6 separate regions of the Homo sapiens genome follow, and all the other regions are reported to be linked to region 1. Evidence: microRNA targets listed by miRTarBase, many of them from high-throughput screens and not tested one by one. Region 1 holds a microRNA gene; each other region holds the end of a gene's coding sequence.
What was found. Region 1 holds the annotated microRNA hsa-miR-548c-3p (CAAAAAUCUCAAUUACUUUUGC, at 1,370-1,391, opposite strand). A microRNA usually pairs through its seed, bases 2 to 8, with sites in the 3' UTR of a target mRNA and lowers its output. Matches are read on the target gene's strand: a 7mer-m8 pairs with bases 2 to 8, a 7mer-A1 pairs with bases 2 to 7 and ends in A, and an 8mer does both.

Region 2: miRTarBase lists ZNF99 as a target of hsa-miR-548c-3p. Seed matches in the 3' UTR shown: 7mer-A1 at 2,034-2,040, 7mer-A1 at 1,331-1,337 and 7mer-m8 at 359-365.
Region 3: the mRNA of TWIST1 is a reported target of hsa-miR-548c-3p. Seed matches in the 3' UTR shown: 7mer-A1 at 3,298-3,304 and 7mer-A1 at 2,992-2,998.
Region 4: miRTarBase lists SF3A1 as a target of hsa-miR-548c-3p. Seed matches in the 3' UTR shown: 7mer-m8 at 4,258-4,264, 7mer-A1 at 2,705-2,711 and 8mer at 2,210-2,217.
Region 5: the mRNA of DPY19L1 is a reported target of hsa-miR-548c-3p. Seed matches in the 3' UTR shown: 7mer-A1 at 1,554-1,560, 7mer-A1 at 1,961-1,967, 7mer-A1 at 2,729-2,735 and 7mer-A1 at 3,374-3,380.
Region 6: miRTarBase lists EMC10 as a target of hsa-miR-548c-3p. Seed matches in the 3' UTR shown: 7mer-A1 at 258-264.

Annotation. Positions count from the first base shown.
Region 1 is chr12:64,618,886-64,623,959 of GRCh38, reverse strand. It overlaps MIR548C (microRNA 548c), which reads right to left and starts at 1,451; the gene lies at 1,355-1,451. All of the region lies in intron 1 of RASSF3 (Ras association domain family member 3), which reads right to left. MIR548Z (microRNA 548z) reads left to right here and starts at 1,355; the gene lies at 1,355-1,451. RefSeq lists an enhancer at 2,370-2,529.
Region 2 is chr19:22,752,874-22,757,947 of GRCh38, forward strand. ZNF99 (zinc finger protein 99) reads right to left here. Exons shown (of 4, transcript NM_001080409.3): 4 at 1-5,074. The coding sequence ends at 4,441. Among named protein-coding and RNA genes, the nearest start is that of ZNF99, 29 kb to the right of the region's middle.
Region 3 is chr7:19,112,541-19,117,614 of GRCh38, forward strand. TWIST1 (twist family bHLH transcription factor 1) reads right to left here. Exons shown (of 2, transcript NM_000474.4): 1 at 4,131-5,074; 2 at 2,928-3,591. The coding sequence starts at 4,781. The coding sequence ends at 4,173. It overlaps LOC124901597 (a long non-coding RNA gene), which reads left to right. Exons shown (of 3, transcript XR_007060241.1): 2 at 1-127; 3 at 215-705. Among named protein-coding and RNA genes, the nearest start is that of TWIST1, 2.6 kb to the right of the region's middle. RefSeq lists enhancers at 4,103-4,362, 4,386-5,074.
Region 4 is chr22:30,329,822-30,334,895 of GRCh38, forward strand. SF3A1 (splicing factor 3a subunit 1) reads right to left here. Exons shown (of 16, transcript NM_005877.6): 16 at 2,167-4,874. The coding sequence ends at 4,773. Among named protein-coding and RNA genes, the nearest start is that of TBC1D10A, 5.4 kb to the left of the region's middle.
Region 5 is chr7:34,927,252-34,932,325 of GRCh38, reverse strand. It overlaps DPY19L1 (dpy-19 like C-mannosyltransferase 1), which reads left to right. Exons shown (of 22, transcript NM_001366673.1): 22 at 597-3,445. The coding sequence ends at 753. Among named protein-coding and RNA genes, the nearest start is that of MIR548N, 11 kb to the left of the region's middle.
Region 6 is chr19:50,481,554-50,486,627 of GRCh38, reverse strand. EMC10 (ER membrane protein complex subunit 10) reads right to left here. Exons shown (of 7, transcript NM_206538.4): 7 at 1-4,479. The coding sequence ends at 4,369. Among named protein-coding and RNA genes, the nearest start is that of MYREM, 4.8 kb to the left of the region's middle.

The DNA.
Region 1 (5,074 bases):
AACAGAAATATGGCCGGACATGGTGGCTCACCCCTGTAATCCCAACACTTTGGGAGGCAGAGGCGGGCAGATCGGTTGAGGCCAGAAGTTTGAGGCCAGTCTGGCCAACACGGTGAAACTCTCTCTCTACTAAAAAAATAAAAATAAAAATTAGCCAGGCATGGTGGCGGGTGCTGGCAATCCCAGCTACTCGGGAAGCTGAGGCATGAGAATTTCTTGAACCTGGGAAGCAGAAGCTGCAGTGAGCCGAGATCGTGCCACTGCACTCCAGCCTGGGTGACAGAGTGAGACTCCATCTCAAAAAAATAAAAGAAAATAAAATTCTGAAATATCTGAAAGGGCTGTACCTTCCACCTAAAGGAACACTGGCAAGAAAAGCAATCCACAAGCCTGTCTGAACAAACAGAAACAGACCTTAAATGGACAAACGTAATATTGTTTCTTTATACCATCTACATAATATTTACATTTTCCCATAGCTGGGAAATTACTCACTACAGTCAAGTACCCCTAAATTTACCTCTGGCATGTCATGAAACCTGCATCTGCTTAAGGCCTAAACGGATAAACGTGCTAGTTAAATTTCTCATCTCAGAGTTCCTCTGAAATTAAAGTCCAATAAAATCAACTGAATTTTAATTCCCTTGGAATGCCCTGTTAACTGTAAAACACTAAGAAATGCTAAAGTTAATTTTGGTACTGGTACTTTTCCTCCTACGTGATATATTTAACTATGTTGTTTTCTATTTTCATTTAAAAAAATTTTGCTCCTATGACTTTGCTGGCAAAATATCAAAAAAGATTCCTCGAAACAAGCATTTGTAGAAAATTTTCACGGTGGCCGGGCGCGGTGGCTCATGCTTATAATCTCAGCACTCAGGGAGGCCGAGGCAGGCGGATCACCTGAGGTCAGGGGTTCGAGACCAGCCTGACCAACATGGTGAAACCCCGTCTCTACTAAAAATACAAAAATTAGCTGGGCATGGTGGTATGCGCCTGTATTCCCAGCTACTGGGGAGGCTGAGACTGAAGAATCACTTGAACTCAGGAGATGGAGGTTGCAGTGAGCCAAGATCGTGCCACTGTACTACAGCCTGGGCAACAGAGCAAGACTCCATCTCAAAAAAAAAAAGAAAGAAAAAAGAAAATTTTCACAGTAAGCTTGTTTGAATTAAGAAATTGGGGATTAAGGAGGGCTCATAATCTATCAATCATAAAGTCAGAAGTAACTCTTCACATCTTTTTAAAAGATTCACTTGATAAAAAGATTCTGAAAGAAAAAATTTAAAGTAGGAGTTAATCAGAATAAAAGAGATTAAGCAACAATTTTCTACTTAGGCTTCAACAAGCCTGAAAGTATTAAGTTGGTGCAAAAGTAATTGAGATTTTTGCTACTGAAAGTAATGGCAAAAACCGCAATTACTTTTGCACCAACCTAATAGATGCCAATGCCGATTCCTTTCTCATCGCAATTTTTCAACAAAAGACAGTAAGCCTATAAGTAAACAGTATAAATTATCTTTGGTGGGTAAGGTTTCCAGCAGTTTGTCCTACCATCCTTTTTTCAATACCTAGTATACTTACAAAATAAGTTAGGACTGGCCAGGCACGGTGGCTCACACCTGTAATCCCAACACTTTGGGAGGCCAAGGCAGGCGGATAACGAGCTCAGGAGTTTGACACCAGCCTGACCAACATGGTGAAACCCTGACTCTACTAAAAATACAAAAAAAAAAAAAAAAATAGCTGGACATGGTGGTGCATGCCTGTAATCCCAACTACTCAGGAGGCTGAGGCAGGAAAATAGCTTGAATCTGGGAGGCAGAGATTGCAGTGAGCCAAGATCGCGCCACTGCACTCCAGCCTGGTGACAGAGCAAGACTGTCAAAAAGATAAAAATAAATAAGTTAGGTTCTTCTAAATTCTACCAGAGTGGTTGGAAAACAAGCCCTAAATTTATTGAAATTCAAAGATAAACAGGAACTTCTAGTCACCCTTTTTTTTAAAACACATGGTTAGTAGAAAACACATCACCCAACTCCCCACCTTCTGAATCCCACGGGTTTATTTATGGTGATGCTTTCTTAGCAATGCCTTTCCCATGTTGTAACTACAGGAGTAATAAGTATTTTTCTGAGTTTCAGTGATGTCAGCCTGAAACACATTCTGAAGTATTTCAAAATGCCTGGGCCGGGCACGGTGGCTCACGCCTATAATCCCAGCACTTTGGGAGGCCCAGGCGGGTAGATTACCGGAGATCAGGAGTTCGAGACCATCCAGCCTGATCAATCCTGTCTCTACTAAAAATACAAAAATTAGCCGCGCATAGTGGCGCATGCCCATAATCCCAGCTACTTGGGAGGATGAAGCAGGAGAATCACTTGAACCTGGGAGGCGGAGGTTGCAGTGAGCCAAGTTCGCACCATTGCTCTCCAGCCTGGGCAACATGACCGAAACTCCATCTTAAAAAAATGAAAGCCTGAATATGTAATATCCTTTTGGTACAAACAGTGTAAGTCAAAAAAAACCCTGAAGTTCAGCTGACCTCAAAAAAGCAGAACCATCTACCAAGCTAAAAATGCACAGACTCAAGCAGTGCTCTCTCAAGATTTTGCCTACCTAATAGACAAATGGGCAAAGGTCATGCATGGACAATTCTCACACAAGGGAGATTTACTCAGAAGTATTTAAAAAGTATTAAATTCACAGTTAATTAAAGGAATGTGCCAGGCGCAGTGCCTCACGTCTGTAATCTCAGCACTTTGGGAGGCCGAGGTGGGTGGACCACCTGAGGTCAGGAGTTTGAGACCAGCCTGGCCAACATGGTGAAACCCCATCTCTACTAAAAATACAAAAATTAGCAGGGCGTAGTGGCAGGCGCCTGTAATCCCAGCTACTTGGGAGGCTGAGGCAGGAGAATCTCTTGAACCTGGGAGGCGGAGGTTGCAGTAAGCCAAGATCGCGCCATTACACTCCAGCCTGGGTGACGAGTAAAACTCCACCTCAAAAAATAATAATTTAAAAAATAATAATAAAGGAATGTAAATTAAATAGCAATAAGGTGCCTTTAGTTATTGAAGTTTTTTTTCTCTATTTTAATGACTATATCCAATGGAAGTAAGGGTGTAATGAAACTTAAAAATAGACATAAATTGGCAATATATAACTAGAATCATAAAAAGTCACACCCTCATAATTAGTAAAATTCCATTTTTGTACAACTATCCTATAAAATTAATCCATAATGGAAAAGGTTTCATGCTCAAGGTATTTATTAGTGCTATTTACAGTAGCAAAAATTAGAAACCTCCACATTTTCCAATATTTGGGAATAACGCCAATTCAATAAAATACAATGTAGACAACAAAATGACAGCTGAAATCAAGCAGCAGTATTCCATAATCCTGGGTTTAAATAAGGATTCAAATTTGTCAGTATAGTATTCCTCAAAAAATTAAAAACAGAATTACCATATGATTCTATAGCAACTGTTACTTATGGGTATATATCGCAAAAAGTTTTAAGAGGGGTCTTTAAGAGATATTTGTACACCCCTGTTCACAGCATCATTATTCACATGAGCCAAAAGGTGGAAGCAATCCTAATGTCTATGGAAGAATCAATGGATAAACAAAAAGTGATATATACATACAATGGATATATTATTCAGCCTTTAAAAGGAAGGAAATTCTGACACATACTCCAACATGAATAAATCTTGATGACATCAAGCTAAGTAAACTAAGCCAGTTACAAAAAAACAATTACTACACAAATTCACTTATCTAGACTAGTCAGACGAACCTATATACGCCCCCCATGAAGGCAGGTTTCAATCTGTTTCGTTCACCACCAAATCTCTAGCACTTAGTCTAGCATCATTGTGAATATTCAATACTTGAAAAATGAATTCAGAAAACTACACACACACACACACACACACAGTCAACCTGCACTAATTTCTTTTTTTTTTTTTTTTGATATAAAGTCTCACTCTGTTGCCCAAGCTGGAGTGCAGTGGCGCAATCTCGGCTCACCACAACCTCCACCTCCCAGGTTCAAGCGATTCTCCTGTCTCAGCCTACCGAGTAGCTGGGAGTACAGGCATGCACCACCATGCCTGCCTAATTTTTGTATTTTTAGTAGAGACGGGGTTTCACTATATTGGCCAGGTTAGTCTTGAACTCCCGACCTCGTGATCCGCCCGCCTTGGCCTCCCAATGTGCTGGGATTACAGGCGTGAGCCACCACGCCTGGCAACCTGCACTAATTTTAAGTGAACTCTTTGCTGACTATATTCTAAGTCCGTTAACTCCAAGATCTTCTAAATCCATCCTTCTGGTCTCCAATTCCCAAACTCACCCTTTTTCCTCCTCTAATTATCTCACCTTGTTTAGCATCTGGAAAAAGAACCAAGTGAGGCAATATATAATTAGTAAATTATTCTTAGCTGACTGAATCATGTAGCAGCAGTTAGCAATTACAGTCCACAAAATGCAAAATATTAAGCTTGCTCCTTTAATACTCTATGAAACATGAGCCCTCTTCTGTCCTTAAACTGAAGGCAGAGTTGCACCGAGAATGCCATTAGGTCAGTTTTATCTTATTGGCTCATGTGGAAAAAAAAAAGGGAAGTTCCCCACACAAAAGTTTCACAACCCCAAAATGCTGGTATGTGTGTCCCTGGATAGGCTGAGAAGAAACTATCCCCAACAGTAAAGGGCAAGTTCCCCTTCACAAAGAAAAATCTTCCCAACACACCAGGCTGGTACCCCCACATCCATCCATCTGCAGCCACCAAGACAATGGAGATTCAAACCTCTGGCAAGGGCTGCCAGCCCTGCTTCAGCAAACAGCATTGTTCAACAAAAATATCATGCGAGCCACATGCATAATTTTAAGTTTTCCATAGCCATGCTAAAAAATAAGTAACATTAAATTTACTTAACTCAAATATTATCGAATATTATCATTTCAACATGTAATTGCAATTTTTTAATTATCATATTTTACATTCTTTCTTTTTTTTTATTATTATACTTTAAGTTTTAGGGTACATTTCTAATCTTCAAA
Region 2 (5,074 bases), not on the chromosome of region 1:
TCCTCAGAACACCTACCTCATACATCACTCAATATTTTAAGTTAACCACAAAAAGCCTCTCCATTTAGATTTTTATCATGCATTTTATATTTTAATATCCTTTCTCTTTTATGAAAAAGGTCATAAATAATGCCCATCTAATAAAAAAGAATCTTTCATATCTCTGATGCAGCAACAATTGATCGCATGCTTTCACATGTAAATAAAGTAGGAATGAAGAGCATGAAGTAACTTGAGAGTTGAATTACATCCTTATTTGCTTTTCAGAGTCTGTAATTTTTTTCAATATTGTGATGTTAATTTTTTTGATATTTGAAGTATACAAAAAGTATACTTCAAATGTAATTATAATTCTCCAAAAAATCACCTCCTCTTTTTTAAGTTATATGCAAATAACTTATCTAAATTTTAGATTGAAATTATTTTTTTTACTCAACACTCTGATTTAGTGTAGTCTGAAGTGCCAGTGCCTTATCATTTCTACTGTGAATTCTCTGACATTTACAGAGTTAATTTTGGATTGAATATTTTTCATATTTACTGCATCTACAAAAAAAACTTACTCTGTTTTCTAAGCTGTAGTTTATAAACTTTTTTCCAAATTTATTACATTTGCAGGTTTTTTTCTCTATTATACATTCCCTGATATTGAACAAAGTTTGAGCAACTTTAGGGTTTTTCTCTAGCACAAAATATGCACAATAAGATCTGTGATACAAATATAGTACTACAACCGTCTTTATATTTGTAATGTTTGTCATCAAAAGAAATACTCTTCACCATTCTAAGGTTTATATTTTCTAAAAGATATTCTCACAGTAATTGCATTTTTAATATTTGTTTTAAGTATAAACTCTGTGATGTTAAGATGTGAGCAGATATTAATGGCTTTTCCACATTCTTCATAGGTGTACATTTTTTTTCAAGTATAAATGCTTTCCTATGCGATAAGGTGTGAGTATTGGTTAAATATTTTGCCACATTCTTCATAGTTTTCTCTAGGATAAATTAGCTTATACTCAAGTGTGACAACCATTTAAAGGCTTTGTGACATGACTCACATCTAGGGCTTCTTGACACTATGATTTCTTTTATGTTTAGAAAAGTTTAAGGTGTTCTCAAGAGCACTGTCATGTCTTTTAGGTTTGTAGAGCTTCTCTCCAGTATGATTTGATAACTTATTAAAAACTTTGCCACATTCGACCGGGCTCAATGGCTCATGCTTGTAATCCCAGCACTTTGGGGCACTTTGGGAGGCCAAGGCGGGTGGATCACTTGAGGTCAGGAGTTCAAAACCAGCCTGGTCAAAATGGTGAAACCCCGTCTCTACTAAAAATACAAAAATTAGCTGGGCGTGGTGGCAGGCGCCTGCAATCCCAGCTGCTTGGGAGGTTGAGGCCAGAGAATCGCTTGAACCCAGGAGGCGGAGGTTGCAATGAACTGAGATTGCACCATTGCACTCCAATTTGGGCGACAGAGTGAGACTCCATTTCAAAAAAAAAAAAAAAACTTTGCCACATTCTTCACATTTGTAGAATTTCTCTACAACATAAATTATCTTATGTGTAATAAGGGTTGAAATGTTTTTAAAGCTTTTGTCACATTCTTCATATTTATAAAATTTATCTTCTGTATGAATTCTCTTATATTTAGTATGAGTTGAAGACCAGTTAAAGACTTTGTTACATTCTTCACATTTGTCGGGTTTCTCTTCAGTATGAATTATCTTAATGTGTGGTAAGATGTGAGAAATGGTTACAGTGTTTGCCACATTCTTCATATTTGTAGGGCTAGTTTCCATTATGAATTATCTTATGTTCAGTAAGGTTTGAGGACGTTAAAAGCTTTGCAACATTCTTCACGTTTGTAGGGTTTCTCTTCAGTATAAATTGTTTATTAAGAATTGAAGAATTAGGCTGGGCACGGTGGCTCACGCCTTTAATCCCAGCACTTTGGGAGGCCGAGGCGGGCAGATCACCAGAGGTCGGGAGTTCGAGACCAGCTTGACCAACATGGAGAAACCCCGTCTCTACTAAAAATACAAAATTAGGTGGGCGTGGTGGCACATGCCTATAGTCCCTGCTACTCGGGAGGCTGAGGCAGGAGAATCGCTTGAAAACCCAGGAGGCGGAGGTTGCAGTGAGCCGAGATTGTGCCACTGCACTCCAGAGCCTGGGCAACTAGGGCGAAACTCTGTTTCAAAAAAAAAAAAAAAAAAATTGAAGAATGCTTATGGCATTATTCACATTTGTAGGGTTTCTCTCCCATTGAATTATGTTGTTTAGCAAGAGTTGAGGACTGGCTAAAAGCATTGCCACTTTCTTCACATTTGTAGGGTTTTTCTCCAGTACGAATTTTCTTATGTCTAATAAAGTTTAACTGATTAAAAGCATTGCCACATTCTTCACATTTCTAGAGTTTGTCTTCAGTATCAACTATTTTCTGTTGAGTAAGGTCTGAAAACCAGTTAAAAGCTTTGCCACAGTTTTCATATTTGTAGGGTTTCTCTTCAGTATGAATTATCTTATGTTCAGTAAGGTTTGAGGACCAGTTAAAAGTTTTGCCACACTCTTCACATGAGGCGGGTTTCTCTCTAATTTATCTTATATTCAGTAAGATCTGAGAACCCGTTAGAAGCTTTGCCACATTCTTCACATTTGTAAAGTATCTCTCCAGTATGAATTATCTTATGTTCAGTAAGTTTTGAGAAGCAGTTAAAAGTTTTGCCAAATTCTTTAAATTTGTAGTGTTCCTCTCCAAGATAAATTATTTTATGTTGAGTAAAGTTTGAGGACTGGTTAAAAGCTTTGCCCATTCTTCATATTTGCAGTGTTTGTCTCTACTATGAATTATCTTATGTTCAGTAAGATTTGAGGACTGATTAAAAGCTTTGCCACATTCCTCACATTTGAAGGGTTTATCTTCAGTATGAATTATCTTACATTCAGTAAGATTTGAGGACCAGTTAAAAGCTTTGCCATATTATTCACATTTGTGGAGTTTATCTTCTTTAGGAATTCTCTCATTTTGAGTAACAGCTGAGCAATGGTTAAAAGCTTTGTCACCTTTATTATATTTGTAGGGTTTTCCTCCAGTATCAATTATTTTATGTGTATTTAAGGTGTGAGGACTGGTTAAAGGCTTTGCCACATTCTTTACATTTGTGGGGTTTCTCTCCAGCATGAATTGTTTTCTGCCTATTAAGGCTTGAGGACTGGTTAAAAGCTTTGCCACATTCTTCACATATGGAGGGTCTGTCTCTAGTATAAATTATCTTATGTGTATTAAGGTTTGTAAAATGGTTGAAAGCTTTGACACATTCTTCACATTTTTAGGGCTTCTCCCCAGTATGAATTATCTTATGTTTAGTAAGGGCTGAAAGATGGTTAAAAGCTTTGCCACATTCTTCACATTTGTAGGTTTTCCCTCCAGTATGAATTGTTTTATGTTGAGTAAGGTGTGAGGACTGGTTAAAGGCTTTGCCACATTCTTCACATTTGTAGGGTTTCTCTCCAGAATGAATTATCTTATGTTTAGTAAGGTTTGAGGACTAAATGCTTTACCACACTCTTCACATTTGTAGGGTTTCTTTCCAGTATGAATTATCCTATGTTTAGTAAGGCGTGAGAAATGGCTAAAAGCTTTGCCACGTTCTTCACATTTGTAGGGTTTCTCTCCAGTATGAATTGATTTATGTTTAGTAAGGTGTGAGGATTGCTTAAAAGCTTTGCCACATTCTTCACATTTGTACGGTTTCTCCCCAGTATGAATTATCTTATGTTTCATAAGGGTCGAGAAATTGTTAAAACCTTTGCCACATTCTTCACATTTGTACGGTTTCTCCCCAGTATGAATTATCTTATGTTTCATAAGGGTTGAGGAATTGTTAAAAGCTTTGCCACATTCTTCACATTTGTAGGGTTTCTTTCCAGTATAATTATCTCATGTTTTCTAAGGGCTGAGAAATGCTTAAAAGCTTTGCCACATTCTTCACATTTGTAGGGTTTCTCTACAGTATGAATTACCTTATGTTCCATAAGTTTTGAGACCACTTAAAAGCTTTACCACATTCTTCACATTTGTATGGTTTCTCCCCAGTATGAATTATCTTATGTTTCCTAAGGGCTGAGAAATTGCTAAAAGCTTTGCCACATTCTTCACATTTGTACGATTTCTCCCTAGTATGAATTAGCTTATGTTTCTTAAGGGTTGAGGAATTGTTAAAAGCTTTTCCACATTCTCCACATTTGTAGGGCTTCTCCCCAGTATGAACTGCTTTATGTCTAGTAAGGTGTGAGGACTGCTTAAAAGCTTTGCCACATTCTTCACATTTGTATGGTTTCTTCCCAGTATAAATTATCTTATGTTTCCTAAGGGTTGAGGAATTGTTAAAAGCTTTGCCACATTCTTCACATTTGTAGGGTTTCTTTCCAGTATGAATTATCTCATGTTTTCTAAGGGCTGAGAAATGTTTAAAAGCTTTGCCACATTCTTCACATTTGCAGGGTTTCTCTCCATATGAATTACCTTATGTAAAGTAAGTTTTGAGGACCACTGAAAAGCTTTACCACATTCTTCACATTTGTAGGATTTCTCTCCAGTATGAATTATCTCATGTTTTCTAAGGGTTGAGGAATTGTTAAAAGCTTTGCCACATTCTTCACATTTATAGGGTTTCTTTCCAGTATGAATTATCTTATGTTTTCTAAGGGCTGAGAAATGCTTAAAAGCTTTGCCACATTCTTCACATTTGCAGGGTTTCTCTGCAGTATGAATTACCTTATGTACAGTAAGTTTTGAGGACCACTTAAAAGCTTTACCACATTCTTCACATTTGTAGGGTTTCTCTCCAGTATGAATTATCTCATGTTTTCTAAGAGTTGAGGACTGGCTAAAAGCTTTGCCACATTCTTCACATTTGTAGGGTTTCTTTCCAGTATGAATTATCTTATGTTTCCTAAGGGCTGAGAAATGGTTAAAAGCCTTGCCACATTCTTCACATTTGTAGGGTTTCTCTTCAGTATGAATTACTTTATGTCTAGTAAGGTGTGAGGACCACTTAAAAGCTTTACCA
Region 3 (5,074 bases), not on the chromosome of region 1:
GGGGCTGGGGGCCTTCCACGCAAACCGAAGGAGATACGGACATCGTCATTCTCCCCACCGCGCGAGCCGGGCCCGCCACCCACGCAGGGGAGACCGTGCCCGTGCCCCTCTCCCGCGCCTGCCGCAGGTGAGACCCTCGCTCCCCACGGAGTTCTGTTTGGGTTTCCGTGGCGTTTGTTCCCCGCAGGTTTGTTTATTTTTCTTCAAATTACAGATGCAGGGAAAACCGCCTGACATCATGAGAGCGGGACAAACGCTCACTTTGAAGGATTCCTGGGCAGGACTTCAAGTGAAATCATATGCCTGAGAAGAACTTGATACCGGTCTAGAGAAAATAACCAGTTCTGACTTTGCCAAACCATGGAATGTGCAAAATGCTCTACTTTTTTGCAAGAGGCCAAATGTCCCTTAAAAAGCTCCATTATGAATATGAACCTTAAGACCGAAGGGTCAAGAAGCTTGTGCCGTTGTTGAGTGTGGGAAAAAATTTACACACATCGTGCAAGTTTCTGCTCCTTAACATTATTTTATTAATAATACGTTCCACTTTGGGGAGGGGAACCTGTAACTGTGCGTGAATTATCATCTGGACATGTGCTTCTGTGAACAAAAGGGGAAATGTGCATATGGGTAAAAAAATTACTGCTTTCTTATAACTAAAGGCTATCAATCTGACCAACTTATAAATAAAAGTAATCAATAGCACAGTAAAGGAAACATTAAATTTTCTACAATTTACCCAAGACAATTTAATACAATACTTTCCCCTAGCAAATGCATTCTGAAGGAAAAAGATCCCAAGTGAACCAACACATTAATTGGAAAGCCTTAGCTTCTTATTTCCGAAAACAAGAGGTAATTCATTCTATGTGTTCTTTAAATAAGGGTAGGTAGCAAAAATAAAATGAAATAACATAAAATCAAAAGAAGATATAATGGTGGAGGAAAAGAAACAGGTGGCTTCATTTCTATTCTAAAAAAGAATTTCACGATTTATGTCTTGTGTATACAGGGGTAGGGATTAGAATCTGCAAGCTGGAAACTGCATTCCAGTAGTTAATATTTTTCATTGTGCAGTCGCCTCATTCAAAATAAAATTACCACCTTTTTCATTCATTTATTTCTCTGAAAATCTGGGGGGAAACATTACCTTCAGATTAGTATTTAATATTACTATAAATATGGCATTTGCTTTTCTCCAAAGTGTTTCCCCTTATGAAAAAAGTAGAAAAAGCAAAACACATTAAAAAAAGAAAGAAATAAAAGAAAGGCAAATGGAGAGCTACCTTTCTTTGACACATCTAGTTCTTATATCCAGAGTTAAGATAACAATTACCTTCTCAGCAGTCATGGCCAGCTCCATCCTGGTGTACCTTAAGAAATCTGAAATATCAAATAGTCAGACCAAGCTAGTGAACAAGGAGACTCCCCATGAATAATTTAGAAAATGGAGGTGGTTGGATGATACATACAAAAAAGAATTACCAACCTAATGCTTTCCCTCATCCTCCTAGGGCACCCTCCTTACATTTCTAACCTGCCTTACACACAACACACACACACCCCCAACAAATACACCAACACATAATCGCCTTCCCTTTCTGTTATTTGCTAAAGGACTATCAAAATAAAAAAATAATAATACTTCTCCAAGCTTTCACTAACCTTTTAATACAAGTCAATGCTGCAGACTCCTTATTGTAAAATATAGTCTGAAATATTAACAATAAATTCATAATATTCTTATGTCAGCATTCTATGGTGCTGTGTGAAGAAGAAAACAAAAACCTTCAGGCAATAAAATAACTTTGACCTGAGCTAAGCAAAAACGATCTGTTTGGATACATACACTTATTAGTCATTGTTTGAAACAGGCACCAAAATGATTTTCCAGTTTGAAAGCTTCCCCAGTTACACTTGGATGCAGTAAATCGGATGTAAAAGCTAAGAACTGATACAAAATCACTATTTCTAATAATGTTAATTATAAAAGCCAGTATGTTCCTGGCCCACAAATAATCAGAATGAAATAAAAAATCAAACACCCCCGTTTGCCCATTATTGTTTTACTTAACTTCAGATTGTGTGTGTGTGTATGTATGATCTCACCAGGGAAAAATTCTGTGTAATTCTGGATAAAATATAACGCTAATGAACTGACTAGTAACTGCATAGCTGTAGTATTTAAAACTGTGATTATTCCAACTGTGATTATATCCAGTTACCAAGGATACTGAAAGTTCAGGATCTTCATTTTTGTATATTATTCCACAGCCTTATATTCTTTACACATAAAAAAAGAATGATGCTTCCCAAATAGCGTCAATATAGCGATATATTAACTTTTCTTTTTAGCAAACATGACACTAAACGTCATATTCATTCATGAGAGAAGAGTTAAGCAAATTACAAATGGAATTTTCTCTTTTCTGCTGATTTACACTTTATTTTCTATGCATTTCTGGTCATTTCTATATGTGTATAGATAATTTTCATAACACTATATATGTTTTCACTGAAAAGAACCTGTTATTTAGGAATCTTCACAAAGAGTGAAGAGCATGACAAAAAGTACATAATAAGAGAATAGTGCAGGTTTTATACTCCTTATTTGCATTTAACTGTTTTAACAACTATCACCTCAAAATAAAAAGGAGGTGAATAGCAAATTTGTTAAGTTTTTGCTGTTTGGAGACAGTAAGAGATGAAGAGATGCTACTAAGCCCTCTGAATACCAAACTGGAATAATAATAAAGCTGTCTTTTAAAATAACATGCTTGTGCCTGTCAGTAGCTGCTTTATTTGAGTTTTTCATTGCTTTGTTTATATTAGTGCCCCCTCCCTCCTGGGTGCCTCTAGAATTAAACAAGCAGGTATTTACCACCAACTTAATCTTTAGTTTTAAAAATATAGACCAAACTCTAAGGTTCTCTAAATTTTTTATATTTATTTATTGCAGAAAAATATACAAAGATATTTACAAAACAATCATAAAAATATGAATGCATTTAGACACCGGATCTATTTGCATTTTACCATGGGTCCTCAATAAATAAATAGAATGTTGTTTTTTGTATTTTAAGTTTTTTTTTGTTTTTCCCCTCAGAGGAAGGATGAAAAAAAGAATTAACTGACTATGGTTTTGCAGGCCAGTTTGATCCCAGTATTTTTATTTCTAAAGGTGTTCTTATAGTTCCTCTGATTGTTACCATTTTAAAATAGAGAAAGTCCATAGTGATGCCTTTCCTTTCAGTGGCTGATTGGCACGACCTCTTGAGAATGCATGCATGAAAAAAATAAAAATAAAAACATTCTTCGTCAAAAAAAAAAAAAAAAAAAACACAAACAACTGTTCAGACTTCTATCAGAATGCAGAGGTGTGAGGATGGTGCCGCTGCCCGTCTGGGAATCACTGTCCACGGGCCTGTCTCGCTTTCTCTTTTAAAAGTGCGCCCCACGCCCTGTTTCTTTGAATTTGGATTTTGCTCTTCTAATTTCCAAGAAAATCTTTGGCATATATTTTTATTTTTAGTTATCCAGCTCCAGAGTCTCTAGACTGTCCATTTTCTCCTTCTCTGGAAACAATGACATCTGCAAAAACCCAGAGGGGGGGGGGGGAGTCGGTTATTGTTTAGGTCTCTGCGGCTGTTTTCTAAGACTAGTGAGCACTGTTCTTATCACCACCACTGAGAAATTAAGCTGAACAACCTGGAAGGATTTCAGCCCAAGGGCAAGAGGAAGTGGGTGGGTGGAAAGGAGGAGGAGGTGGAATTTGTTTTAAAACATTTGTTTTAAGGAGAACAAAAATTGAAAGCCGAAAGAAAGGGTGGCGCTGACAAAACGGTCCTTACCCGTGACCCTGGGTGTCTCTGTCTCCCCTCCTGTCACGCACACTCACGCGCACACACACCCCTCACCAGGGCGCATCCCCCTGGAGACTGCTCTCCCTAGCGGGGTCAGACCGGCCTTCCGGGGACGCTGGGGGCGCGAGGCAACGGTGCCAAGTGAGGTGGGAAGGCTGAGCGGAGAGTGGGAGAGGGGAGGAAATCGAGGTGGACTGGGAACCGCGGCCTGGCCGGCCTGCCGTCTGCCACCTGAGAGGCGAAGGGGTGCAGCGGCGCGGTCCTTACCTAGGTCTCCGGCCCTGCTGAGGGGGTGGGGGGCTCCGCCTGCTAGTGGGACGCGGACATGGACCAGGCCCCCTCCATCCTCCAGACCGAGAAGGCGTAGCTGAGCCGCTCGTGAGCCACATAGCTGCAGCTTGCCATCTTGGAGTCCAGCTCGTCGCTCTGGAGGACCTGGTAGAGGAAGTCGATGTACCTGGCCGCCAGCTTGAGGGTCTGAATCTTGCTCAGCTTGTCCGAGGGCAGCGTGGGGATGATCTTCCGCAGCGCGGCGAACGCCTCGTTCAGCGACTGGGTGCGCTGGCGCTCCCGCACGTTGGCCATGACCCGCTGCGTCTGCAGCTCCTCGTAAGACTGCGGACTCCCGCCGCCGCTGCTGCTGCCGCCGCCGCCGCCCGCGCCGCCGCCGCCGCCACAGCCCGCAGACTTCTTGCCGCGCTTGCCCTGGGCCGGGCTGCCCGGCTCGTCGCCGCCTCCGACGCCCCCACCCGCGGCTCCGCCGGGCCCCGCGCCGCCGCCCGCGCTGCGCCTGCTGCTGCGCCGCTTGCGTCCCCCGCGCTTGCCGCTCGGCGGCTGCTGCCGGTCTGGCTCTTCCTCGCTGTTGCTCAGGCTGTCGTCGGCCGGCGAGACTGGCGAGCTGGACACGTCCTGCATCATCTCTCGAGCGGCGACGCGTGGCCTCGCGGGCCCGGGGCAGAGGAGAAGAGCGGGGCGCCTCAGCCCGCCAGCTTCCCCCGCGCGCGGCGCCGGCCCGGGCGATGCGGCCCGCGGAGGAGAGAGCAGGAGGACGGACGGGAGGGACCTCCGCGGGGAGGGCGCGCGGGGGAGGCGGGGAGGGAGGCGGGAGGGGGAGGGGACGGTGTGGATGGCCCCGAGGTCCAAAAAGAAAGCGCCCAACGGCTGGACGCACACCCCGCCAGGCCTCCTGGAAACGGTGCCGGTGCTGCAGA
Region 4 (5,074 bases), not on the chromosome of region 1:
CCCTCAACAACTGGGTGTCCTTGTGTGAAATTGCTAACTTTTGTATTTTTTTGTAGAGATTAGGTCTTACTATGTGGCCTAGGATGGTCTTGAACTCCTGGGCTCAAGTGATCTTCCCGCCTTGGCCTCCCAAATTGTTGGGATTACAGGCGTGAGCCTCCATGCCTGGCCAAACTCCAGAGTTCTTTATTTAATACACCTATAATGAGCCAGACATTAGTGCAGGGGTGTCCAACCTTTCGGCTTCCCTGGGCCACACCGGAAGAAGAATTGTCTTAGGCCATACATAAAATACACTAACGATATAGCTGATGAGTTAAAAAACATTGCAAAAAAAAATCTCATAATGTTTTAAGGAAGTTTACAAATTTGGGGCCGGGCGCGGCTCATGCCTATAATCCCAGCACTTTGGGAGGCCGAGGAGGGCGGATCATGAGGTCAGGAGATCGAGACCATCCTGGCTAACACGGTGAAACCCCGTCTCTACTAAAAATACAAAAAATTAGCCGGGCGTGGTGGCAGGAGCCTGTAGTCCCAGCTACTCGGGAGGCTGAGGCAGGAGAATGGCGTGAACCCGGGAGGTGGAGCTTGCAGTGAGCCGAGATGGCGCCACTGCACTCCAGCCTGGGCGAAAGAGCAAGACTCTGTCTAAAAAAAAAAAAGAGAAAGTTTACAAATTTGTGTTGGGCCACATTCAAAGCTCTCCTGGGCCATGGGTTGGACGAGCTTGCTCTAGTGAATAAGAGAGATGAAGTCCTGGCCCAATAGAGTTTATAGTCCAGTGGAGGAGGGACAACATGAACAAGCACAGAACATCTATCAGGTAGTGAGAATAAGAAAATAAAGCCAGGTAAGGTATGGAGAATGCTGGAGTAGGTGTTGGGGAGGTGGTATGGGCTGAAAATGAGGGACCCCTTCTGCAGGACTGAGAATAGTGTACAAGCATGGCAGCAGATGATTTTCCCCTTGAAGGAGAAGGAGGCTGTGTTGTTAGATTGGAGTGAGAAAGCAAGGGCAACAGTGAACCAATGAATAAATGATCAGAAAGGAGCCCTGCAGAATCACGTGGTTCACTGGAATAAAGAATTTAAGAGGCCTTAGGCAATGCTGTGGAACATCCTGGTGAACTGGCTGTTGGAGACATTCTTTTGAAGATAGAATGTGTTGATATCCCAGAGTCTCATCCTGCTGGGGTCATTCCCAACAGCTGGGCTTGAGGATCTCACATAGGCCCCTCTCCTGGATCCTGGAATGTGCAGTTGGCATGTGCTCAGGAAACCTGTGAGCACTGGCCATGAGCAAAAGTCCAGATGCCCTTTTTTTTTTTTTTTTTTTTTTTGAGACGGAGTCTTGCTCTGTTGCCCAGGCTGGAGTGCAGTGGTGTGATCCTGGCTCACTGCAACCTCCACCTCCCGGGTTCAAGAGATTCTCCTGCCTCAGCCTCCCAAGTAGCTGGGATTACAGGCACCTGCCACCTGTTATAACAGTATTCTCTGTAATGATCTATTTTAATTTTAATTTAAAAAAACTTTTTTAGAGATGAGTTCTCACTATGTTGTCTAAGCTGACTTTGAACTTCCTGGCTCAAGCAATCCTCTTACCTCAACCTCCCAAGCAGCTGGAACTACAGGTGTGTCACTGTGCCTGGCAGGAGTTTATCTTGTCCTGCTTCATGGACTGTAGTGTCCAGGGGTACCTAGAATTGTTCACTTACATGCTGGGAGCAGTGTCAGGGCATGGTGTCAGGGAACTCACCAGGCAGTGTTCTTTTATATAACAATGCAGCCTTTTTTTTTTTTTTTAGACAGAGTTTCAATCTTGTTGCCCAGGCTGGAGTGCAATGGTGCTATCTCAGCTCACCACAACCTCCACCTCCTGGGTTCAAGCGATCCTCCTGCCTCAGCCTCCCAAGTAGCTGGGATTACAGGCATGTGCCACCATGCCCGGCTAATTTTGTATTTTTAGTAGAGACAGGGTTTCTCCATGTTGGTCAGGCTGGTCTTGAACTCGCGACCTCAGGTGATCCGCCCGCCTCGGCCTCCCAAAGTGCTGGGATTACAGGTGTGAGCCACTACACCTGGCAACAATGCAGAATTAAAAAAATGTAACAATACAGAATAGTTAACAGCAAATCTCCATATCTGGTAGAGTTAATGATCATAACTCTTAAGATCTTACATTTTGCTTTTATTTTTAAAAAGTAAACTTCTAAAAATCTTATACACTGGTATGTGTACCCATGAGTAGAGCTATATTATGCTTTCTTGTCTAATTACAGGGATAAATGAAATATGATTGCTAATAGTACATGTATTTCCATTCAAGTATATATCCTAACATAACCCAATATAACCATTTAATATATTCTCTAATACAATATTATTAATTTTAAAGTAAAATGGTTCTGATCATTACTGGCCTCCTCTAAGAGTACATGACAAGTACTTAAGTAGTGGGTAGAACTGAAAGTGAAATTCCTTAATGTCTACAATTCCTGGAGCCCTCTGCATGCAAGTCTTCAAAATTATGGTGACTTAAGTCCCACACCACCTGTTTTCCCAGCAGTCCTGCAACAGGAGCACTTATTCCTATTTCATAGTGTGGTCTGGTGGAGCAGAGCAGTGTGGTCCCCAGGAAGGGATGAGCTGCTTTGGCTTTCCAGAGCACTCACTGGCTACATGACCTTGGGTATTCCACCTCGTTTTAAAAATGGGGCAGATAATCCTCAGGAGATTGCAAGAAGAATCAGAAAAGCTGTGCAGAGCAGCTTTGTATTATAAACACTAGGACGCTACCTACATGCTGCAGGTCCTAAACTAGTGCAGTGCCAAGCAGCACACTGGGCCTGTGGCCACTGATGTTCACAAGGCCTCATGGTCAATGGAGCTTCTGCATCTGAGCGAGCCAGTACAGATATTCATTCAGGAGCTCCAGGAAACTGGATTTGCTCTCTAGAGGGCAGCTCAAAGGGCCCATTCACTCACAATCCACCCAACGGCATTCCTGGCCTCCGGTCACAGCCTCAGCCACGGAAGTCCTGCAGGGTTTGCCAGTCTGTGGGGGTGAGTGCCCTAACACCATGAACTGCCCACTGCTCCCAGAAAGAAAGAAGAACTTGGAATATGAGACTCCCCAGGTCTCCTGACCCTCTTCCTTCTTGGAATGAGACCCAGGTAGTGCTCAGGGGATTTCTGGTGTTGGCCATGGACAAGCAACCAGTAGTGGGCTCACTTTAGGGACGCAAACCACAAAGCCCACCTCAGGAAGCCAAATTTCAACTCTTGCCCCTGGGGCAAACTTCTAGCAACCAGGCCAGAGGCAAATGTCAGACAGGATAAGGGATGACATCCCATCAATCAAGTTGAAAATGGGAGGGACCCAGCAGTTTGTAATAAAGCCATAAAACTGGTACTGACTCTGGGTGAGAGGGAGAGGCAGGGTGGTGACTAGAGAGCTGGTTCTGTGACCTTGGGAAATGGTCTCACCCCTCTGAGCCCTGGAGATGACCTGATGGGGCAGCTAGGAGGTCCAAATGGAAGGACTGCAAATAAAAGGCACTGGGAACTCTCAGGGGCCACACACATGTGAGATCTTCCCAATAAAATCAGCCTTAGCTTTAAAACCAGGAAATTGTTAGCAACAGGCTCTCACCTTCCTCCAACACCCACAGCATTGCCTATCTCCCTGTGATAGCTTGATTCTAAAGATAACAGCCTGCCTTTACTCAGAAACCAGGACTGTGACGTGTTTTGCACACATTCTCTTTTCACTTTCACAGTGTGTGACTATGGCATGCAACTTATGTTCTCTGTGCCTCAGTTTACTCAAGTGTTAAACAGGAATACTCACATGAGGATTACATGAGTTAAAATGGATAAAATGGATAAAAGTAGAGAGTAAATTATTTAAACTTTATCAAATCCTTGGTACATGACCTTAATACAATTAAGTATTTGTTAAATACATACATTTTAAAGAAACGTCATCATATCCACACACCTATGAGGCACCTGCCCAGGACCACAGAGCCAATCAATCAGGTGATGAGTGATTCCAGGCCAGCAGGAAACCACCGCCCACTGACACAGGGACTGCACCATCCATCCTTGGTTTGCATGGTGCCTGCCATGCTTCCTGTATTACTGTTAAATACATGGGGCAGGCCTTTGGAGGATCCCAATGTTTTAAAAGGGCAATACGAATATGATTCTAATACATAAAAAGTATGAGGGCAGCAAGAATTTAGTTACAAAACCCAAAAATCCTCAAAGAGAAGCCACATAGCACTGTGCAGTGTTACCACTGCCTCGAGTCTGGACAGGGCACAGGTGACCGAGACAAGTCTTATTTAACTGATTTCACAAGAAGGGTCCGAGTTTTATTAGACAACCCATGTCAAGGTACAAAATGATTAATGACAATATCAGCCATATTCTATTAGCCAAGTGCCACCTGTCACTATGAAACTATCCTGTAGGACATCCCTGGGCTCTCAGTTGCTAATGGGCTGCTGAAGAAATGAATGTCCTCAAATCGAGACCCTAACACAAAGAGATTCCAGAGAGTGGCTTAGAAAACCCAGCTACTCTTACCAATGTGGGGAAAGGGTCAGGGGAATGAACCTCTGCAGGACAATTTGAATTCCCAAACTGAGTAAGAGCGAAACAAATATGCAGGCAAGGCAAAGCCTCAGGGGGGCTCCTGGGTCTGGGGCAGGGGGTGGGAGACAGGAGAGGCAAAATGGCAGGGACTTGACAGCAGGTTCCTCTTGTCTACTTCTTCCTCCCGCCTCTCTCCTTGAGGGCCAGGTGGATGACTGCGCCATTGGCCATGTTGTAGTAAGCCAGTGAGTTGGAATCTTTGATGAAGATACCCTGGAAAACAGACAGCGTGCCTTAGCATGGGGCAACCCAGCCTTGGGGATACCGCTGCAACCTTACAACTGTGCACTTGGTCTGTTTGCGCTCTGGACTTAGCAAATACAGGAGCTTGTGAGAAGGTAGGGTGTTGGGGACTGGAGGCCTCTCATTCCTCCCACTGTTTCCTTTCTTCCCACCAATTACGCTCCTCCCCT
Region 5 (5,074 bases), not on the chromosome of region 1:
AAGCCGTGATGTTGGGTAGATTAGGTGTATTAAATGCATTTTCAACTTATGATGGGTTTATTGGAACATACCCCATTGTAAGTTGAGGAGCATCTATACAATTAATGCAGCTTCCCTGTGAACTAAGCATATTTGTTCATTATAATTTTTTAAATCAATGTCATACGTTTTTCTGTGTGAATGGTGCTAGATACCTGGTCTCTCATAATCCTCACAACAAACCTATGTCATGGTTGTTTATTTCCCCATTTTACAAATGTGAAAACTAAGACCAAGGGAAGCTACCTGCCCAGAACCACATTCTTGATAAGTAGCTGAGGCAGAGTTTAACTGAGGTGTCTCTTTCCGCAACACCTGGATATATGTATCTACAGGTCTGTTTCTTTCCTTATAGTCACCTTTGCTGCATTGACCTTGTCCTAAGGTGAGTCATGGCAGCTTATAAAAACATAAATAGCTATGTAACAGGATTGTTTAAAAACTAAAGTAATTTAAGGGGAAAAAAGGAATTGAGGTCAGGAATGTAAGAAGTGCTCTGCTTTCTCTGCAGTTATATAATGCATATTGATTTTTAACATGTACATTCATTTTTCTAGGCCTGGTTGCAGTATGCCTGAAATTTGGGATGTAGAAGATCCTGCCAATGCTGGGAAAACTCCCTTATGTAACCTCTTGGTGAAGGATTCCAAACCTCACTTCACCACTGTATTCCAGAACAGTGTTTACAAAGTCCTAGAAGTTGTAAAAGAATGACTGCTACATGACCTGCTGCCTACGGAGAACTACATCTGTAATGGTTTTAATGTTTTGCTAAGTCATGTGTTGTTCATATCCCAAAAACTTTTATAGGTAACTGTTTTCAAATAGAAAACGTTTTATTTGGTCAATTTGAATGTCATTCTAATTATAAAAATGACTTACACCTTTATCAATTGGTTACTATTTCAATGCACCCTTTAAAATTTGCTATGCAAATGAGTATATGCTTGTACTTGACTTTAATATTTGTGCTAAAGTGAGCAAAGCTACCTGTATAAAGAAAACACAGTGGGTTGTGACAAGGATGACATGAAAATACAGGACAATTCTGACAATGTAGGGGCTGATTTTATAGTGTAAGAACTATTAATGCCCCTTGCTTCTTTTTTCTGCCTCTTGCTCTTGTCTTTTGGACATTTCAGTGATTGTAAGTTCTTCGGTCATGTCAGCCCCTGTCATCAACTTGAGTTACAGTAGATGGGGCAGACATGGAGTGTTTGCTATATAGAACTATCTGTTTGTTTTACTTCCTTGTGCGCTTTTTGTTCTCTGTTCTCTTGTTAATGAAGCTTTTCCTGCCCATTATTAATCCAAACTCTTGGACCTTGTGGTTAGGAAATTCCCTTAACTTCCAGCCATATGGCATTATCGTGTCTCTTTCTCTCTCTCTCTTGCTCTCTCTCTTCTCCTCTTCCCCATATTTTCTGTCAAATAAGTACTGTTTACTCATTTAGTTGCTTATCAAGTACTTATTCTTGGTTTTAAAAAAAATTAATGGTAACTGTATTTTTCTCATTTTTAGCATTATTCAAATGTTTATATTTTAATACCTTTAAACCACTTTAAAGTTTTTTCATGTTTAATTATAGTTTTAAGAAAAACTATTTTGAACAACCCCAAATATAGTGCATCTAGAAACTAATGTATATTTGATTAGACATCATTTATAGTGGAACAGTAGACTGTAGTACATGGTAATTTTTCTTTTACTATTAAGATACAATAAAACATGACTAATTTTGCTGTCAAAAATGTAAAGAATAATGATAAATGGAGTTTTTATATTTTACTTTTAAGATTGCCTGTCTTTAATAAGACAAAGCCTTAAGCCTTATGTTATAATTTTGGTTCTAAAAACCATCATTTCAGTATAAGGAATAAGTATATTTCGTCCTCCTCTTTAGTTTTTTTCTTCCTATTTATTTTTATTTTGAAAAATTTCTACACCTTCTTTGAATTCCTTGTATGAATTTTTGTTTCTTAGAAGTTAATTTGTGTGAAATGAGATTCTTCAAAACGATGAAACCTCATAGCTCTGAGAAAAGGTTTTAGGGTTTTAAATTCTAAGCAAAGCGTGACTATGGCTGACAGACTACACATTTAATTATACAGCTTCTCTTTCTTAACCACAGGCAGATTAACCTCATTGTGGATTGTCCTTCAGACCTTAGTCCTCAGGCATGGTTTCTGGTGCCCACTCCTGGAAGCCGCTGTTCCCTTTCTACCTTCTTACCAGAGCCCAAGGGCAGGCCTGGTCCCGGGGAAGCAGCAGCTTGCTGACATAAGTCAGCTGCAAAGGCTGAGGAGTGTGCCCTCAGAGAAGCACCGCCCCCCAGTCTTGTGCCAGCGCCTAGAGCCGCAGCTCCCAGGGATGCTCCTTCCCTGGAGGCAGCCCAGGAGAGGGACTCTGGCAGCGTTCTTCAGATTTGTGGCCACTGTTTCTCATTTGCTGGTTGACTGTTTTTATTTCTTAGGCTTTTGCTAGTTTTAGAAAATAGGGAAGCAGCCCTTGATTTGTGGATTAAAAGCAACATTTGAGCGATGATGCACAACAGTCCAGGAAAATGGGCGGTGGACACTTGAGGCTGAGGATGGGAGTTGACATGAGCAGGGAGAGGGAGGTGCGCGCTGCTTATCTGTGATTGTTGCTCACCTGAGTGTGGCTGATTGTGTACATCCAGCAGTTACAATTTTTAAAAATTATACTTTTACATTTATTTTATATTTTTCTCACCCCCAGTAATTTCCTTCCAAAGAAGTTCACATGTAATAAGTAGAAATTCTGTATAGGAAAAAAGCATTAAAAATACTATTATAACTGCTTCATTTGCTGGGAACCATTAAAAGTAATATAAATTAGCTTTTTCCAGAAGGATCCTTTTGTAGCAGTGTTTATGAATGTAACCCCCAGCAAAATATGGCTATATATTAGGGGAGCCAGTTTGGAGCAGAGGCCTGAAGGTCCCTGCTATGCAGCCGTGGCCACAGCTCGCAGCCCAAGCACTGTGGAGCATCCACACCTTTGATGGCAATGCAGATTGGTAGCAGGTTCCATAGGCGTACAAAACAGTATTAAAGCTCAGTGTTTTGCATATTGTTAGCATTTACAAATATTTTTGCTTTAGTATGAGGAAAGTAAGGATGGGCAAAGAAGCGATCAAAATAGCTATTGCTACAACATTTTCGAAAACAAAGTTGGGGCTGTATTTCTTTAAAAAGATAAGCCTCTAAAAATGCTTGGCAAAAAAAATATAGTGTTAAAATAGGCCAGTGATATTAATGAGAAAATGAAAGTATGTATCAGGAATAAAGTGATATTGCATAGGAGTATTGTATTTTTATGAATTTTATGCCAGTTGTTTACATGTACTATATATGTTAAATTAAAAAAAATCATGAGTAATGAGGGAAGTGTTTTTCTTGATTGTTATTTTCATTTTCACCTTGATTGTGATCAAGTTCAGCCTCGTTTTGTAGTCAGATAGCCATGAACTGGTTTGAGTCAGATGGCAGTCCTGAGAAGAGAGGGAGGGATCATAAACAGTGGGGGTAGACTCTTTGGTCTTGTTGTTGGTAGTGGTAGGTACTGAGGTTATCCAAACTTTTCCTGTATTTGTGGTAGAGTCACTTACATTCCTTTTTTATCCTTTTCATCAAGGGACACAGTAATTCATTCAAACTATATATTGGGAATAATTAAAGGGTTGCTAAAAGCTGTTTTAATGTATTTAAAACATACATTGGTATCAACATTTTCTAAATTGTAACTCAATGTGTTTACTTGATACAAACATCAACTCTTGGTTCTTTCTCTATGTAGGAAAGACATTTCAGCTCTGTTCATTCCTGTATAATTTCTTAACACAATGACACCTTGATTCTGACATCTTTGGGGAGTGAGGTGTTCTAATACAGTGGTTCTCAAAATTAGCAGGCATCAGCATCACCTGCAAGGCCTGTAGTTTGCTGGGCCCCACCACAGAGGTTTCTGTTTCAGTTGGCCTATGGTGGGGCCCCAGAACTTGGATTTCTTAACAGTTCTCAGGTGGTGTTGATGCTGTTGGTCCAGGGACCATACTTGAGAGCCTCTGCTCTAATCGATGGGAACAGACTGGCTGGATGACTGGCCTCCAGGGGGCGCTCCATTCCTGACAGCACATCCCGCCAGAGCTGGTTGATGGACACTCTACCGGGAGCTGAATTTTACCACGTACCTTCTTTGCCTGTTAAGGGCACTGCTTCAATGAAACTTGCAAGGAGCAAAGAACAGATTAGGTAATTTTTAATTGGAACACTGATATGAGTTATAGGTTATTTAAATATTTTGAAGCTGCAAACTGCCCCTTGTTTCTTTTCAGTTCAGAGATGGAAAAGGAGTGAAAATCCTTGAAATAGAACTTCCTTTTGTAGGATTACTTTGCCTAGAAGACAATAGATAAATTCAGTGATGTGTGGGGATTGCAAAAATTCATTTTCCACTTTATTACTTTCGTTTTGGCACCAGAAATCCGAATCTTCTTCCTTTATTAGAGGTCAGCCAATAATCAGCGCTAGGTCACAGATTGCTTGCTTCTCTCTTCTTCCTCCTTTTTCTCCTGCCCCCAGTTAGAAGTTTCTAATTTGAATCAATAAAATTGTTCTCAGTGCAAAAAAGGAGCTACTTTTAAACTTCATTACATTCCTGATGTGGTCTTTATTTCACAGCATTGTATCAGGACAAATACGTTTTACATTAGAAGTTGAAAAGGATATTAAGGTACAAAAAGGTCTTGAAAACTTTCCTTTTACATTTCCTCCCGTGAGAGAGATTTTAAAATTCTGAATGAGCATATAAGAGTTGAAGACTCGATTTGATTGTAGTGTAATTAAGAGATAGTTTTCTTTTTTTTTGGCAAAGAGATTAGGATAACATTGATACTGGCTTCACTTTCAAAGCAATGTTTTCTATAGTTTTCTATACACAATTATCTTTAACCCAAAACTCTAAGTATGCACAGTGTTGTCAAAATGACTTTCAAATAAATGGTAGCACTAC
Region 6 (5,074 bases), not on the chromosome of region 1:
CTTTGTAACAACATTGTTGTGCCTTGCTGACTGGAAGGTGGGTACAAATAAAGGAGGATGGACTGACAGCTGAAGAGGCACCAGTAATTAGCCCCTAATCCTTACCAGGGAGTCTCTCTGATGGGTTAAAGAAGCCTACAGAGGCCAGGGGCGGTGGCTCACACATGTAATCCCAGCACTTTAGGAGACTAAGGTGGATCGCTTGAGGTCAGGAGTTCAAGACCAGCCTGGCCAACATGGTGAAACCCGGTCTCTACTAAAAATACAAAAATTGGCTGGGTGTGGTGGCACACGGTTGTAATCCCAGCTACTCAGGAGGCTGAGGCAAGAGAATTGCTTGAACCTGGGAGGTGGAGGTTGCATTGAGCCAAAATTGAGCCACTGCACTCCAGCCTGGGTGACAAGTGAAACTCCATCCCACAAACACACCTGCCCCCCACCCACCAAAAAAAAAGGAGCCTATAGTTTCCAGTAGACAATTTGGGGTTAGTAAAGAATTTTACAAAATACTAAATGTAGTCTTGTATATTTTAGGATTGTTTGCCATGCAACTATGTACTGGGAGCACCTAAATGCCCACATGAAACCCTAGGCTGGGAAGAGGAAGGCTTTCGCAATGCCACGCAGCCGATAACATTTTCTGGTGGCAGGAAATGGGAGGGAGCAACCCCTCCTGGAGCATTTACCTTGCCAGGTGCTCTCACATCTTAGACCAGAAGTCACGAGGCTAGGATGAGGGTCCAGGAGGCAGAGAATGAGGATTGAGTTAGGGTCAGGACAGTGGACACAGAGAGGAGGAGACACAGAAGGATGGGTTGGGACTCTATCCTGGGGGAGGTGAGAGGCCACGCGGAGGGCTGTGAGCAGGGGAGTAGTGAGGTCAGCTCTAGTGTCAGGAAGCTCTCCATTAGGGGGATGGACTGAGGGGGGGATGTTGGGGGCTGGGAGGCCAAAGAGGAGGCTGGGCCGATGGTCCAGGTGGCAGAGGACGAGGCTTGAGCTGGGACCAAGGCCATGGAGACAGAGGTGACGGGATGAGGCCAGGAAGAACTTTAGGGGTAGGTATGGTGGTGCATAGGAGAACGTGATTGGGACAGGGCAGTGCTCTGGTCCATGAGGTTGGGCAGGTGATGGCACCACTCACTGGAACAAAGATCCCTGGAGGAGCACCCGATCCGGGCAGGTGGGAGGCACTGGCTCCTTTAGTGGCCCCTGAGGCACATCCTGGGGAAGGAGCCCAGGAGGCAGCTGGGGCCATGAGTCTGGAGATCAGGGGTGGGATCTGAGCTGGAGATGAGTTGGGGAATCGCTGGTGAAGAGGGGCTGTCTGGAACCTCCAGGGTGAAGGGATGGGGCAGACACCTGGAGTAGCAAGGGGGAAGCATGCACCACCATCACACACACATCCCTCTCCCCCAGCAAGGTGGGGCCCCACCGGGCCATGTCTTCCACAGACACATATGTGTGCAAAATGATGCAGCAGAACAGGGGGACTCCTGCAGTGCTGCTTAGAACTACTCAAATCCAGCAACACACTCTTACACCAGAGATGGAATAAGATGGCACCTTATACCAGAGATGGAAACTGCCCCAGCTATGTCAAAAGAAGGTGGGGGAAAAGAGCAACACTTGCAAAACTGTTGACATGTGCATCTGCTTGTTTCTGTGGAGAGTATCTGCAGCATACCAGGGGACAGAAAACTCAGGCTGCCTCCAGGGAGGGGAAGTGGGTGCTGGAGCCCAGAGTGAGCATACAGTTTCTGGACGTGGATTCCACTGCATCTTTTGTCTATTCTGGAGACAGGGTCTCACTCTGTCACCCAGGCTGGAGTAAAGTGATTCAATCACAGCTCAGGAAGCATCGAACTCTGGGGCTCAAGCGATCCTCCTGTCTCAGCCTCCCAAACAGCTGGGACTACAAGCATGAATCACTATGCCTGGCCAACCTACTCTATCTTTTGAGTTTCATACTTCATCCCTGGATAACCCGGTCAATAAAATAAAATAGTGAGTGGGTTCCCCAAGGACCGGCCAGACGGGGAAGAAAAGTTTAATAAGAACAGAACGCTAGGGGAGCCTGAAGGAGCTCAGGCATTTCCTGGAATACCCAACAGAGTAACCCTGCCAGCCTGAAAGCAACCGAGACTTAGAGGGAAAGGACATAATCAGGTTTATAAAGATCCCAATGTTTAACCCAGGAAAAATAAGATGTTCCCCCAGTGCCGGGGTAGAAGACATCTGCAGATCAGACACAGGGACCAGGACTCCAAGTTGGGAACACTTCCCAAAAAGCATCAGTAGGCCTGGCGCAGTGGCTCATGCCTGTAATCCCAGCACTTTGGGAAGCTGAGGCAGGTAGATCACCTGAGGTCAGGAGTTCAAGACTAGCCTGGCCAACATGGTGAAACCCTGTCTCTACTAACAATACAAAAATTAGCCAGGTGTGTTGGCGGGCGCCTGCAATCCCCGCTATTTGGGAGGCTGATGCAGGAGAATCGCTTAAACTCAGGAAGCGGAGGTTGCAGTGAGCTGAGATCGTGCCATTGTACTCCAGCCTGGATGACAGAGCGAGACTCTGCCTCAAAAAAAAAAAAAAAAAAAAAAAAAAAGCATTAGTAAATATTTCTGGAATCCTCTAGGAAAAGAATGAAGCAGGATTCACATGGAATGAAGACAGAAAAAGCATAAGCTATCTCCTGCAGGTGGAGAAAGAAACAGAAGTTAGCAATGCTAAGACTATCTTCTTTATTAAAGTTACCAAAAATAGGCCAGGCGCGGTGGCTCACGCCTGTAATCCCAGCACTTTGGGAAGCCGAGGCAGGTGGATCACTCGAGTCCAGCAGTTCACGACCAGCCTGGGCAATATGGTGAAACCCCGTCTCTACAAAAAATACAAAAACTAGCTGCGCGTGGTGGTGCACGCCTACAATTCCAGCTACTCAGGAGGCTGAGGTGGGAGAATCGCTGAGCCTGAGAGGTGGAGGTCGCAGTGAGTCAAGGTACCGCCACTGCACTCCAGCTTGGGTAACAGAGCAAGACCCTGACTCAAAAACAAAAAGAAGTGATGGGAGGGAAGGCAACCTCCCACGGTGCACCACCTCCTGGTCTTGACAGTCGACTCACAAACCATCACTTGTTTATAAACGCGTTTCCGATCTGCCATCGTAATTCCATTTTAGTCATGCATCCCGAGATCATTCAAACCACACCCAAGAGAGACTGGACGACAGCACTCACTAGGGTGCTATTTATAACCATACAATGCAGGAGGCTAGCTGCGTGTCGATCTGGGGGACAGTTTAATAAACTGCCACACAACACAGCTGAGCTCCACACAGCCACATGAGGATGGGGACAGCCATTCCTTGGGTTTCTGAATAACGTATCAAGTGAGCAGTGAATTTCAATCAAGCTTGTACATCAGGACCGTCTTGCCAAAACAACAGTTGCTTTTGGCTGCTGGAAGCTGTAGCTTTTCAAAACGTTCACACATTTCAATGTATCGTCGATGTTTTTAAATAGACTTACAGGGAGGGTGGCACACAGCAAAGGCCCGCAGGCCCTCGTAGCACCGCAGTCCAGGTAGGATGCTGGGCGGCGGGGGGTGGTGGAGGGGGTTCTATTTACAGTGTCTGGGCTTTGACTCCACTAACTGTTGGTTTTGTTTTCTTTCTTAAACCTTTTCCTTCAAGTCTGGAAGCCTGTGGAGGGCCTGTCACCTTAAAGGCAAGGATTCCTTGTTTGCACCAGGCAGACAAATGTCAAACCACGACCCCAGGGGCTGCACTAGGCGTCGGGCCCAGAAGCCCCCGGCCATCCAGCCCCGACTCTTTCATGCCTCTGCCCCTGATGAGGGGACCCAGGGTACCCTCAAGGGGACACAGAAGGGAGGCTGCATCCTAGTCCAGTGTCAAAGTGAGGGGGGCGCTGCAGGAGCCTGGACAGGACCACCTAGCCCAGCCAGGGACAGGAGGGTGAGACCACCTGGAACAAAGGCACAGAGGCTGGAGAGAAGGCGGCATGTTCCCAGACTGCATGGGCTCGGGGTAGGGGGATGCGAGGTCAGAACTGGCATAGTGGCCAGGATCTCGGGCTCTACTCCATGGGCAGGGGGGAAGCCCCTGGGGCTGCATGGGGCCATGGGGGAGGCGGGCGCAGGAGACACCGGCTGCTGTGCCAAAGGCCCCAGTCCAGCTGCTCCTCTGCCAGCAGAAGGCAGAGGACAAGGGGCTGGCCCAGGTGGCCTCGTGGGACGGGGGGAAAGGAGGGACCAGCAAACCCTTCTTGGGATGGCTGAGGACACAGGGGACTCCAGCAGAAAGGGAGGCCCCTGGGTGTGCAAGACGGGACGCTGACCAGCCTGGGCCCTCACCGGCCACTACCCCCACCACCACCCCCACCCCCACCCCCACCCTGGCCCCCGGTGTCTGGCGCTCCTGACATCATGAGGAACAGGACGACGGGAATGATGTACATCCACTGCAGCCGGACGGAAGGATGGACAGACAGACACAGAAAGAGAGAGAGAGGGGAAGGAGGTGAGTGTGGGCATCACCCACCCACGGTGGGGACCGGCATGAGGGGAGGTCGCGTAAGGGGAGGGCGCCCAGGTCCCCTACGTCACTACAGGTCAGGGAGGGCCAGTGGGGCGCAGGGAGGGGCAGGGGTCTCGGTCCTCACTCAGGCCTCCTGTGGCGGTGGCGCGGGCCCTGGCGCAGCAGGACGCAGGGCTGTGAGCAACACGGCCCCCCCCAGGATGATGTGCCACTGGGGAGGGAGGGAGCGCAGGTCAGGGCCAGTGGGCTGCCGTGGGGCCTGAGGGCCAGCAGGGAGTGGGAGGGCGCTCGAGTGGGCAGCAGGGCAGGGCCCAGCAGGCAAGGGCTCAGCCTCTGGGCCTCAGTTCCCTGCAGCACAACTGTTGGACTATCCAGGCGGAGCGGGTGAGGCCCTCAGGCAGGGCACTCAGCACAGCAGGGCTCAGCCATCCCAGCCTCAGCATCCTCCTAGCCTGCCTCGGGCCACACAGACCTCTTCGCTGGCCTTGGCCTGCCTGGGCTCCTGTGCCACAACCTAA